2 linked regions of the Homo sapiens genome follow. The protein of the gene in region 1 purifies or fractionates together with the protein of each later gene. This does not show direct contact. Each region holds a gene or a part of one and is shown on either strand. Other genes may lie near its edges. The genes, in order: NIPSNAP1 and KLHL22.

Region 1 (8,204 bases):
CTAATTTTTTTTTTTTTTTTTTTTTGAGACAGAGTCTTGCTCTATCACCCAGGCTGGAGTGCACTGGTGCGATCTCAGCTCACTGCAACCTCCACCTCCCTGGTTTAAGCGATTCTCCTGCCTCAGCCTCCAGAGTAGCTGGGATTACAGGCGCACACACCATGCCCAGCTAATTTTTGTATTTTTAATAAAGACGGGGTTTCACCATGTTGGCCAGGCTGGTCTTGAATACCTGACCTCATGATCCGCCTGCCTGGGCCTCCCAAAGTGCTAGGATTACAGGTGGGAGTCACCAGGCCTGGCCTGGCTAATTTTTGTGTTTTTAGTAGAGATGGGGTTTCACCATGTTGGCCAAGCTGGTCTTGAACTCCTGGCCTCAGGTGATCCACCCGCCTCAGCCTCCTAAAGTGCTGGGATTACAGGCATGACCCACTGTGCCTGGCCAAATTTTTGTATTTTTTATAGAGACAGGATCTCGCCATGTTGCCCAGGCTGGTCTCAAACTCCTGGGTTCAAGCAATCCTCCCACCTTGGCCTACCGAAGTGTTGGGATTACAGGCGTGAGCAATGGTGCCTGGCCCAGGTCCATCTGATTTCAAAGCCCACACTCCATCCCCACCCCAGCAGCCTCATTGCCCCCAAACCTCACAGGCCAGAAGGGCTGCTGCTGGCCCTACTAGTGACTCTGGAGAGATATGGGGCAGCCTGAGGGGCAGCAGGACAGAGTGTTCTCAGGTATCCAATGTGGAATTAAGGTATAAGTAACTGCAAGACAGTCCTTGAGGGACTTGATAAACATTAATTCAAGTGGCTTCATAGCAATCCTGCCGAAAACACCAACATCCCCACTTTACAGAAAAGGAAACTGAGGCTGACGGAGGTTCAGCAACTCATCCAGGGTCACTGAGTGAGGGGCAGCAGGCTGACTCTGAGACCCATGCTCCTTTTACAGCCTCTGGGTGTTTGCCACACAAATGGTTTTACCACCAATCCATTCTGTCCCTTCCCCAATCTTGATATTTTTATCTGGAAAACAAAGGGCTCATAAAAGATGATCTTCCCAGAGCCCTTTGAGCCTCAACATTATGTGGGTCACATGCAGAAATTGCTTGAAACATAGGCTAGGGGTTAAGGAGCAACACTTACTGCATGTTCGTCAAGTGCTAGACACTTCACAACCACGGAATCTTTTTTTTTTGTAGACGGAGTCTCGCTCTGTCACCCGGGTTGGAGTGCAGTAGCGTGATCTCGGCTCACTGCAACCTCTGTCTCCCGGGTTCAATTGATTCTCCTGCCTCAGCTTCCTAGTAGCTGGGATTACAGGGGTGAGCCATCACACCCAGCTAATTGTATTTTTAGTAGAGACACGTTTTCACCAACATGGTGAAATTTTTGTACTTTTTTTTTTTTTTTTTTTTTTTTGAGACAGAGTCTCACTCTTGTCGCCCAGGCTGGAGTGCAGTGGCAGGATCTCGGCTCACTGCAAGCTCCGCCTCCTGGGTTCACGCCATTCTCCTGCCTCAGCCTCCTGAGTAGCTGGGACTACAGGCGCCTGCCACCGCGCCCAGCTAATTTTTTGTATTTTTAGTAGAGATGGGGTTTCACCGTGTTAGCCAGGATGGTCTCGATCTCCTGACCTCGTGATCCACCGCCTCGGCCTCCCAAAGTGCTGGGATTACAGGCGTGAGCCACCGCGCCCGGCCATTTTTGTACTTTTTATAGAGACAGGATCTCGCCGTGTTGCCAAGCTGGTCTTGAACTGCTGACCTCAAGTGATCTGCCTGCCTCGGCCTCCCAAAGTGCTGGGATTACAGGCATGAGCCACCATACCCGACCAACCACAGCATCTTTAATCCTCAACAACCCTATGAGATACATCCTGATTACTCCCATTTTACAGATGAGGAACCCGAGGCTTAAAGAGTCCTGAGGTCACCCCACCTACAAAGTCTGAGTTAGATCTGTTAGTGCCAGGCAAACTCTAGGCTTTTCCCACGGTGTCAGCTTTATCCCTAATTATTGGGCAGTCTAGGTGGGGCGCTTATGCCACTCCTCTTTCCCAGCTGTCCAAAAGCCCCACTGCTCTGTGCTGTAACATCTCATGGCAGGCACTATCAGAACTTTGCAGCTTCATTCCTGGGCTGCAGGGCAGGAGGGATGGTTGCTTCCTTTTCACAGGTTGGGGGAGGGGGAACAGGTGGCCTCACTTCTTTGGTAAATATTCCTTGACCATACACAGTCCTGAGCCCTCTGAGGGTGGGAGGCTGGGGAAACAGAGAAAAATGAGATCATGGTCTAGTGAGAGAGACAGACAAGCACCAAGTCATAACTGTGCAGGGTCATATATGCAGAGATGGGGGAAGTACAGGGCTGTGGGGACCAAGGAGTGAGGGGCTGCCCAGGGCCAGTCAGGGAGGCCAAGCCCTAGCTCAGCCCAGAGCAGGGCCCAAACAAAAGCCCAGGCTGAGAGCACATGGCCCAGCCAGACTCCCACTCCCAGGAGGCCACCAGTTGGGTGCAAAGTGCATGGCGCATTGGCAGGCCTGGGTCCCAGACCTGGTGCTGCCACGGCACAGCAGGGAGGGTGACCTTGGACAACTCCCATTCCCTCTCAGGTCCGTTTCCCCACCTGTACAGTTCGAGGTGGAGGAACAAAGGGTCTGTGCAGCCATGGCCCCTGGGGATCCCCCACTGCTCCCCTGCCATCATCTCTTTCCCACAGAACTTCCCGACGGAGGAGCTGACTACCAGAAGCCCCCAGTGGGTGTTAAATCACAAGCTACGCCTGGGAATGGGCCACTCCTCCTGTCTTCTGCCCTCTCCCACTCTCCAGGGCCCAGTACCTGCCCTTCTCACCATCTTTCATCAGGTCCCCATCACAGCCCGGTCCCAACCAGGACAAAGACCCTACCCATCCCTTTCTCACCTCCCCCATTCTTTGCCCAGACCCCTCCCTAGGCCTTGATCCTGCCCCGCCTCTAACCCCCAGATTCCAAGCGAGGAGTCTCAGCCCCTCCCCCACGACCCAGTCCCTGGCCCCCGCGCCTGCACCCCACCCCGCGCGCGTCTATCCCTGCCTGGCCGGGCTCTCACCGCGCCGCAGCTGCAGACGCAACGTCCCCAGCGCGAGGCCCCGGGCCCCCCAGCAGCCGCCGCGCCGTCACAGAGATGCTGCACAGCCGCGGAGCCATGTTGGAGCCGCAAAGGTTGCAGGAAGGCCCCGCCCCCAAGCCCTGGTGGCGGAGGCGGGGCGCGAATAAACTCCACCCCTCCGGCTCGCCCGCCCCCTCACTCACCCGGTCAGGTGGGCGTTTCCTGTGGGCGTCTCCAACTCCGCAGGTGCTGGACGGAAGTCAGGGTTCTAATCCTCTGCGCGCTCTGCGACCTTGGCAAGCCCTTTGCCCACTCTGGGCCTCAGGATCCACCTCGGTAAAATGGGAGCGTGGAACAATAATACCAAGGGTTCTTTTTTTTTTTTTTTTTTTTTTTGAGACGGAGTCTCGCTCTGTCGCCCAGGCTGGAGCGCAGTGGCGCGATCTCGGCCCACTGCAAGCTCCGCCTCCTGGGTTCACGCCATTCTCCTGCCTCAGCCTCCCGAGTAGCTGGAACTACAGGCGTCTGCCACCACGCCCAGCTAATTTTTTGTATTTTTAGTAGAAACGGGGTTTCACCGTGTTAGCCAGGATGGTCTCGATCTCCTGACCTCGTGATCTGCCTGCCTCGTGCTCCCAAAGTGCTGGGATTACAGGCGTGAGCCACCATGCCCAGCCTACCAAGGGTTCTTAACAAGGCTGTCCGGGATGTGCAGCAGAGGGTCAGTGTAACCACCCCATGGGTTCATTTTGCCCGTTTCCCAGACAGCGGATTTATCAAGACAGAGGAATTGCAATAAGAGTTTAATTCATGCAGAGCCGGCTGAATGGGAGACCGGAGTTTTATTATTACTCAAATCAGTCTCCCTGAAAATTCGGAGACTGGGTTTTATTAAGGATAATTTGGTGGGTAGGGGCCAGAGAGTGGAGAGTGCTGATTGGTCAGGTCGGAGATGCAATCATAGGGAGTGGAAGCCGTCCTCTTGTGCTGAGTGGATCTCTGGGTGGGGGCCACAAAACCGGATGATCCGGTTTCTTAATCTGTGTATCGCCAGCGGATCCATTGAGTGCAGGATCGGAAAAATATCTTGAGCACCAATCTTAGGTTTTACAGTAGTGATGTTATCCCTAGGAGCAACTGGGGAGGTTTAGAATCTGTGGCCACTACCTGCATGACTCCTAAACCGTAATTTCTAATCTCGTGGCTAATTTGTTAGTCTTACAAAAGCAGTCTGGTCCCCAGGCAAGAAAGGGGTTTATTTTGGGAGAGGGCTGTTATCTTTGTTTCAAAGTTGAACTATAAATTTGCTGCCGGGCATGGTGGCTCATGCCTGTAATCCCAGCATTTTGGGAGGCAAAGGTGGATCAGAAGTTTAGGTCAAGAGTTCAAGACCAGCCTGGCCAACAGGGTGAAACCCCGTCTCTACTAAAAATACAAAAAAATTAGCCAGGCATGGTGGCGGGCACCTGTAATCCCAGTTACTCGGGAGGCTGAGGCAGGAGAATCTCTTGAACCCTGGAGGCAGAGGTTGCAGTGAGCCGAGATCGCGCCACTGCACTCCAGCCTGGGCAACAAGAGCGAAACTCCGTCTCAAAAAACAAACAAAAAGACTGTAAGTTTGGCCTATGCCCAGGAATGAATATGGACAGTTTGGGGGTTAGAAGCAAAATGGAGTCGGTTAGGTCAGATCACTTTCACTGTCATAATTTTCTCACTGTTAAAATTTCTGCAAAGGGGTTGCATCAGTAAGCCCCCTGAAATTGTATACAACGTTACGTGCTCCTCTGTGGTGCATTCTCTGGGGAAAGGCATTCACATGCCAGGTTTATCACCATCAAAGAAACAAACTTCCTTACAAGTGAAGACAGGGGCAAGGCTGTCAGCTGCAGACACTTTATCTCCACCATCTCCTTTCCCCTTTTCATCCCCCTTTGACTTCTCTGCCTGAAAATCCTGGGGCCTCTTTCTGCCCTGCCCAGCTCTTTTGCCCGCCCTCTAAACTAATCCCTTCTCAGCCCACAATCCCCCAGATCACAGACATTGGCAGGGGTGGAGAGCCTGCAGACCCCACAGGGGGCAGGGGCTCTATCCACTTCCAAAGGGGCAGGGACAGCTCCCCAAAAGAATGTCCACCCACTGACTAGTGGTTGCCTCCTGTTATGCTTGGCATGGGGGGAGTGGAGGCCAGGCCATGATTGCACCACTGCGCTCCAGCCTGGGCAACAGAGCAAGACCCAGTCTCTATAAAAAAATAATAATAATTTTAAGATTAGGACCACGTGTGGTGGCTCATGCCTGTAATCCCAGCACTTTGGGAGGCCAAGGCAGGAGGATCTATGAAAATTCAAAAAATTAGCTGAGCATGGTAGCACACACCTGTAGTCCCAGCTACTCAGGAGGCTGAGGCAGGAAAATCACTTGAGGTAGGAGGTCCAGGCTGTAGTGAGTTATGATTTTTTAATTAAATAAATAAATCAGGCTGGGTGCGGTGGCTCATGCCAGTAAATCCAGCACTTTGGGAAGCCAAGGTGGGTGGATCACCTGAGGTCAGGAGTTCGAGACCAGCCTGGCCAACATGGTGAAACCCCATCTCTACTAAAAATACAAAAATTAGGCCGGGCGCAGTGGCTCATGCCTGTAATCCCAGCAGTTTGGGAGGCCAAGGCAGGGGAATCACCTGAGGTCAGGGGTTCGAGACCAGCCTGATCAATATGATGAAACCCCATCTCTACTAAAAATATAAAAATTAGCCGGATGTGGTGGCATGTGCCTGCAATCCCAGCTACTCAGGAGGCTGAGGCAGGAGAATCACTTGAACCCAGGAGGCAGAGATTTTAGTGAGCCAAGATCGCGCCATTGCACTCCAGCCTGGGAAACAAGAGCGAAACTCCGTCTCAACAAAACAAACAAATAAATAAAATAAAAAATAAAAATACAAAAATTAGCCAGGCATGGCATGGTGACGCACACCTGTAACCCCAGCTACTCCGGAGACTGAGTCAGGAACATGGCTTAAACCCAGGAGGCAGAGGTTGCAGTGAGCCAAGATCGCGCCACTGCACTCCAGCCTGGGTGATAGAGATTCCATCTCGAAAAAAAAAAAAAAATCAAAGTCAGTATGATCTTAGCAGAGTCCCCAGTCAAAGCCACTCAGGAAAAACCCAGGTGGGTTGATGGAAGCACAGCAAATGGTGTCATGTGGTGGGAGCAGCTCTTTCCTTAGGAACCCAGCGTGGCAGACTGACTGTGGAGTGGTGGAAGTGACCACCTCCGCCAACCTGACTTTGGACCTGAGCTTCAAAGGATGAGTAGGAGTCTGCCAGGAGAGAGGGAAGGACCAGCGGAAACTCAGAGGAAGCAATGTGTACTCAGTATGTGAAGGGGCTGCCAGAGGCCAGGCGCGGTGGCTCACGCCTGTAATCCCAGCACTTTGGGAGGCCGAGGCAGGTGGATCAATTAAGGCCAAGAGTTTGAGACCAGTCTGGCCAACATGGCAAAACCCGATCTCTATTAAAAATACAAAAAGTTAGCCAGTCATGGTAGCCACACCTGTGGTCCCAGCTACTCTGGAGGCTGAAGTATGAGAATGGCTTGATCCCAGGAGGCAGAGGTTGCAGTGAGTGGAGATTGTGCCACTGCACTCCAGCCTGGGTGACAGCAATACTCTGTCTCAAAAAAAAAAAAAAAAAAAAAAAAATGAGGGGTGTGTGTTGAGGGCTCTTCCAGGAAGAAAGCACAGTTGAATATAATGAATGGGTGGAGATTATGTGATGGCAGCCTCTCATTCAGTACAGGAATAATTTTGTTTCTCTTTTTTTTTTTTTTTTTTTTGAGACAGGGTCTCACTCTGTCGCCCAGGCTGGAGTGCAATGGCGTGATCTCAGCTCACTGCAACCTCCACCTCCTAGGCTCAAGCGATTATCCTGCTTTAGCCTCCCGCATAGCTGGGATTACAGGCTTGCATTACCACATCCAGCTAATTTTTGTATTTTTAGTAGAGATGGGATTTCACCACATTGGCCAGGCCGGTCTTGAACTCCTGACCTCAAATGATCCACCCACCTCAGCCTCCCAAAGTGCTGGAATTACAAGTGTGAGCCACCGCACCTGGCTGGAATAATTTTCTAACAATGGAATGGGCTGCCTTGGTGGCATGTCATTGAATTGTGTCAACAGAGGCCGAGTAGCAGCACGTTGGCTATGTGGTAGAGGGCATTTGGCAGTCAGGCCACAGCAAGCTGGACCCAAGGACAGGGAGGAGCCGGCCTTGGTGGTTTAGGGTGAGAGGCTCTCACCAAAGCCTTGGCATTCCTGGCTGCCTCACACTGCCTCCCAGGTGAGGAGAATGAGGGAGGACTGACCTGCAGCCTCCTCCTGTGGGTCTTAGCATTTCTAAGAAGGGTTTTCCATCTCTGTCCAGCCAAATAGGGCAGGAGGGTGAAAAAAGGTGGTGCTGGGAGCATGCTTCCACCCCTGCCTGGGAGAGATGGGATATGGGCATCCCTCCCCAACCCACATGAACCACAGTGTGGCCGCTGACTAGAAGGGCAACCTCAAGGCCCCTACTCCCACCTCAGCTAGGGCAACCACATATCCCAGTTTATCCTGGACTTTCTCAGTTTTAGCACTGAAAGTCCTCCATCCCAGAAAACCCCTCAGTCCTGGACAAGCCAGAACCTTTGGTCACCCCAATTACGGCCCTAGTTCTCTCCCCAGGAGATATACCCACTCCATCCCAGAATCTTTTCCTTGCTTAACTAAATCTATTTACCCTCCTTTTTTTTTTTTTTTTTTTTTTTTTTGAGATGGAGTCTCGCTCTGTTGCCCAGGCTGGAGTGTAGTGGCGCAATCTCGGCTCACTGCAAGCTCTGCCTCCCAGGTTCAGGCCATTCTCCTACCTCAGCCTCCCGTCTAGCTGGGACTACAGGTGCCCACCACCACGCCCAGCTAATTTTTTTTTGTATTTTTAGTAGAGACGGGGTTTCACTGTGTTAGCCAGGATGGTCTCGATCTCCTGACCTCGTGATCCGCCCGCCTTGGCCTCCCAAAGTGCTGGGATTACAGGCGTGAGCCACCGTGCCTGGCCCTATTTACCCTCCTTGAAAGGGAGC
Region 2 (3,132 bases), 9.1 Mb from region 1:
TGGAAGAAAGCTTCGTGTGGTGCAGCCCTGCAGTGAGGCTGGTGTGGGCTCACAGCCCATCCATGCAGGGTGCAGGCTAAGCCTGGCAGTCTCAAGAGGGCAAGAAAAGCATGGGGACAGGTGAACAGGGGAGGGTCCCAGCTGCTGTGCCAGTGTGGTCCTTGAGACTGGGTGCCTAAGGGTTACCTGGCAAACCTGTAGCACATGCAGCTCCCCTCCCCAGCACACTCAGCTTCAGGAGGTTGGGAGGAGCCGGGCACAGGCCAGAGGGGCCCCCCCCACCGACCCCCTGATGCTGCCCCGCTCCCAGGTGCTGAAGCTCTGGTTCCCTGACCCTCAGGCTGAGAGACTCCTAACGAGCTGGGCTGAAACTCTGCGTGCTGCCCTGGTTGGGAGACAAGTTCCACACCAGAGAAGACACTCAAGTGGCTGCACAACCACCTGTCACCAGACCAGGGCGAGTTCCAGCTTTCCCACTGAGTGCCCTGTTAGCTTGTGGAGTTTACTGTGCTTCCCTCTCAGGCAGGGTCTTCCCAGTGCCACTTGGCTTCTGGCCTGGGCTTCCACAGCCTCTCCCAGATGGCAGCTCTGACCCCAGAAGCCACGCTTCCTGGGGACGCAGCTTGGGTGCACTGTGGAAAGGAACTGAGGCTGTGGCTACAGAAAAACAGTTAACACCTTCTGTAAGATGCTTTATTTCATTGACCAACAACATGGGGTCTGAAAACCCAGCGGGAGGGGTCTTTTTATCACAGAGCCAGTCCCAGGCGAGCTGATGCATCTCTGCTCCTCTGCCCCTCAGGAGCTCTCATCCTCCAACCCCAGCTGCCCCCACAGCCCCACCCCATTCACAGAAAGAGGGCTACCACGTGCCTCAGCCCCCCTGCCCAGGCTGCCAGCTCCCAGGTCCTTTTGGAGAAGGACTGATCTAGGCAGGGAGGAGAGAAGGCCAACCCCTCCAGGGCTCACTGAGGAAGGCCAAAGCCTTTCAGAAGCAGTTCCTGCAGTGACGTAATCCACAGCCTGGGATCTGCATGGCCCTGAGATGCCTGCGGCAGGCTGGCCAAGGGGCTGGTGTGAAGAAAGAGGGCAGGGCCCATAAGCTGTGGCCAACAGGGGCAGGGGCCCTGCCTGGAGTAAAGTGCTCTGGCCTAGGCTGCGTGGGTTTCACTGCCCTGCAGCCCCAGCCTCCCTTCCCTCTGATGCCAGGCACAGGGAGCCTAGTCCTCACTGGAGTTGTCAAACTCCTCCCAGTCAGACACACTCATCACCTCAGAGGCAAAGTCCGGGTCGGCCTGGCTGCGGTCAGGGGTCCCGCGGGGCGGCTCAAGGAGCAGGGAGCGGGGCAGGGTGAGCACACAGGCCGCCAGGCCTGAGATGGAGTTGTCCAGCTGGGGCCCTTCCTCCCAGCAGTCCTTCTCCACATCGTAAATGTGCACGTAGCCTGTGCGGCTGCCGCGGTTGTGTGAGCGGCCACCTAACACATAGATCCTGTTGTCCAGCACAGCAATGCCAGGCTCACCGTGCCCAGCAGGGAGTGGGCAGACAGATGACCACTGTCCAGACGTGCAGCTGTAGCAGGCCACCTGCAAAGCCAAGGCTAGAATAAAGCCCAGCACCCACTGGGACGAGGCTGCCAGCTCCCCCACAAGCCCACTGACCAAGGTGGCAACAGTTACCCACCATTCTGACAGGTCAGGCCCCCTGGAAGGATGGCACAGGGCCAGTGTTGAAACATCCTGTCCATGGGCCAGGCTGCTGCTTTCTCACCCAGGGATGGCCGAGTCTGCAGGAGGCTGTCTTTTGGGCCCTCCCCTAGAATGATCCTATTCTCTCTGGCTTTGCTCCAGCCCAGCCCTTCCTCTAGGCCACCCGGCCCTAAGCCAGTCTCTGCCCCCGAGTGTGTGGCTGTGCCCCCATCAGCATGTGGTCATTCCCCATGTCTGAGGGCACTGCTTCTCTCCCCTCCAGGAAACGAAGCTGCCTGAGAGACATGGACTCCACTGAAATGTCTTCAACCTCCTTCTGCAGCACTCAACACAGGCAGTAGGACAGGGGGAGGAGACAGAAAGTGGAAGTAATTCCTTGCGGAGTAGTCAACATCAATATTCTCTTGTCTTCAAAATTGTCCAAACAGTAAACAAAGACATGGAAAAATGTTCAACCTACTAGTAATTCAAGAAACGCAAAATCAAAACATCAGAGACAAATTTTTCAACTAGCAACCACTGCAGAGAAGGAAAATCACAAAACCCAATGCTGTTGAGGGTGTGGTAAAGCCATACTACTATGTATCTGTCTGACATGCCAGAAAAGGAATTTGGCAATAAGTATTAAGAGCCATAAAAATCTTACCTTCTTGACTGATTAGCCGTTTTTGGTTCTCTAGCTATGGTGGGCAGAATAGTGGCCCCCAAAGATGTCTAGTTCCTAATCTCCAGAATATGCTACCTTAAGCAGCCAAAGGGGCTTTGCAGATAGGATCAAGGGTACAAGAATACAAAAAAAAAAAGGATTAAGGGTGCAGACCCTGAGATGGGGCAGTTTTCCTGGATTTTCCAGGTGATCCATCCAATTGCATGAGCCCTTAAAAGTGGAAGGGGAGAGGCCGGGCGTGGTGGCTCACGCCTGTAATCCCAGCACTTTGGGAGGCCAAGGCGGGCTGATCACAAGGTCAAGAGATCAAGACCATCCTGGCCAACATGGTGAAACCTCGTCTCTACTAAAAATACAAAAATCAGCTGGGCATGGTGGCACATGCCTGTAACCCCAGCTACTCGGGAGGCTGAGGCAGGAGAATCACTTGAACCCAGGAGGCAAAGGGTGCAGTGAGCCAAGAGCACCACTGCACTCCAGCCTGGCGACAGAGCGAGACTCTGTCTCAAACAAACAAACAAAAAAAGTGGAAGGGGAGGCCGGGGGTGGTGGCTCACGCCTGTAATCCTAGCACTTTGGGAGGCTGAGGTGCGTGGATCACCTGAGGTCAGGAGTTTGAGACCAGCCTGGCCGACATGGCAAAACCCCGTCTCTACTAAAAATAGAAAAATTAGCTAGGTGTGGTGGCGAACACCTGTAGTCCTCCTAGCTACTCCGGAGGCTGAAGCAGGAGAATCGCTTAAACCCAGGAGGCAG

What was found.
Region 2: the proteins of NIPSNAP1 (region 1) and KLHL22 purify together in Homo sapiens (co-immunoprecipitation; 2 studies listed by IntAct). This does not show direct contact.

What each region holds. Positions count from the first base shown.
Region 1 is NC_000022.11:29,577,892-29,586,095, forward strand, and holds the start of NIPSNAP1 (protein NipSnap homolog 1), read right to left. Parts: upstream 3,223-8,204; 5' UTR 3,192-3,222; coding exon 3,094-3,191; intron 1-3,093.
Region 2 is NC_000022.11:20,440,853-20,443,984, forward strand, and holds the end of KLHL22 (kelch-like protein 22), read right to left. Parts: intron 2,352-3,132; exon of another isoform or gene 1,972-2,351; intron 1,587-1,971; coding exon 1,221-1,586; 3' UTR 667-1,220; downstream 1-666. UniProt on the Homo sapiens protein: Substrate-specific adapter of a BCR (BTB-CUL3-RBX1) E3 ubiquitin ligase complex required for chromosome alignment and localization of PLK1 at kinetochores.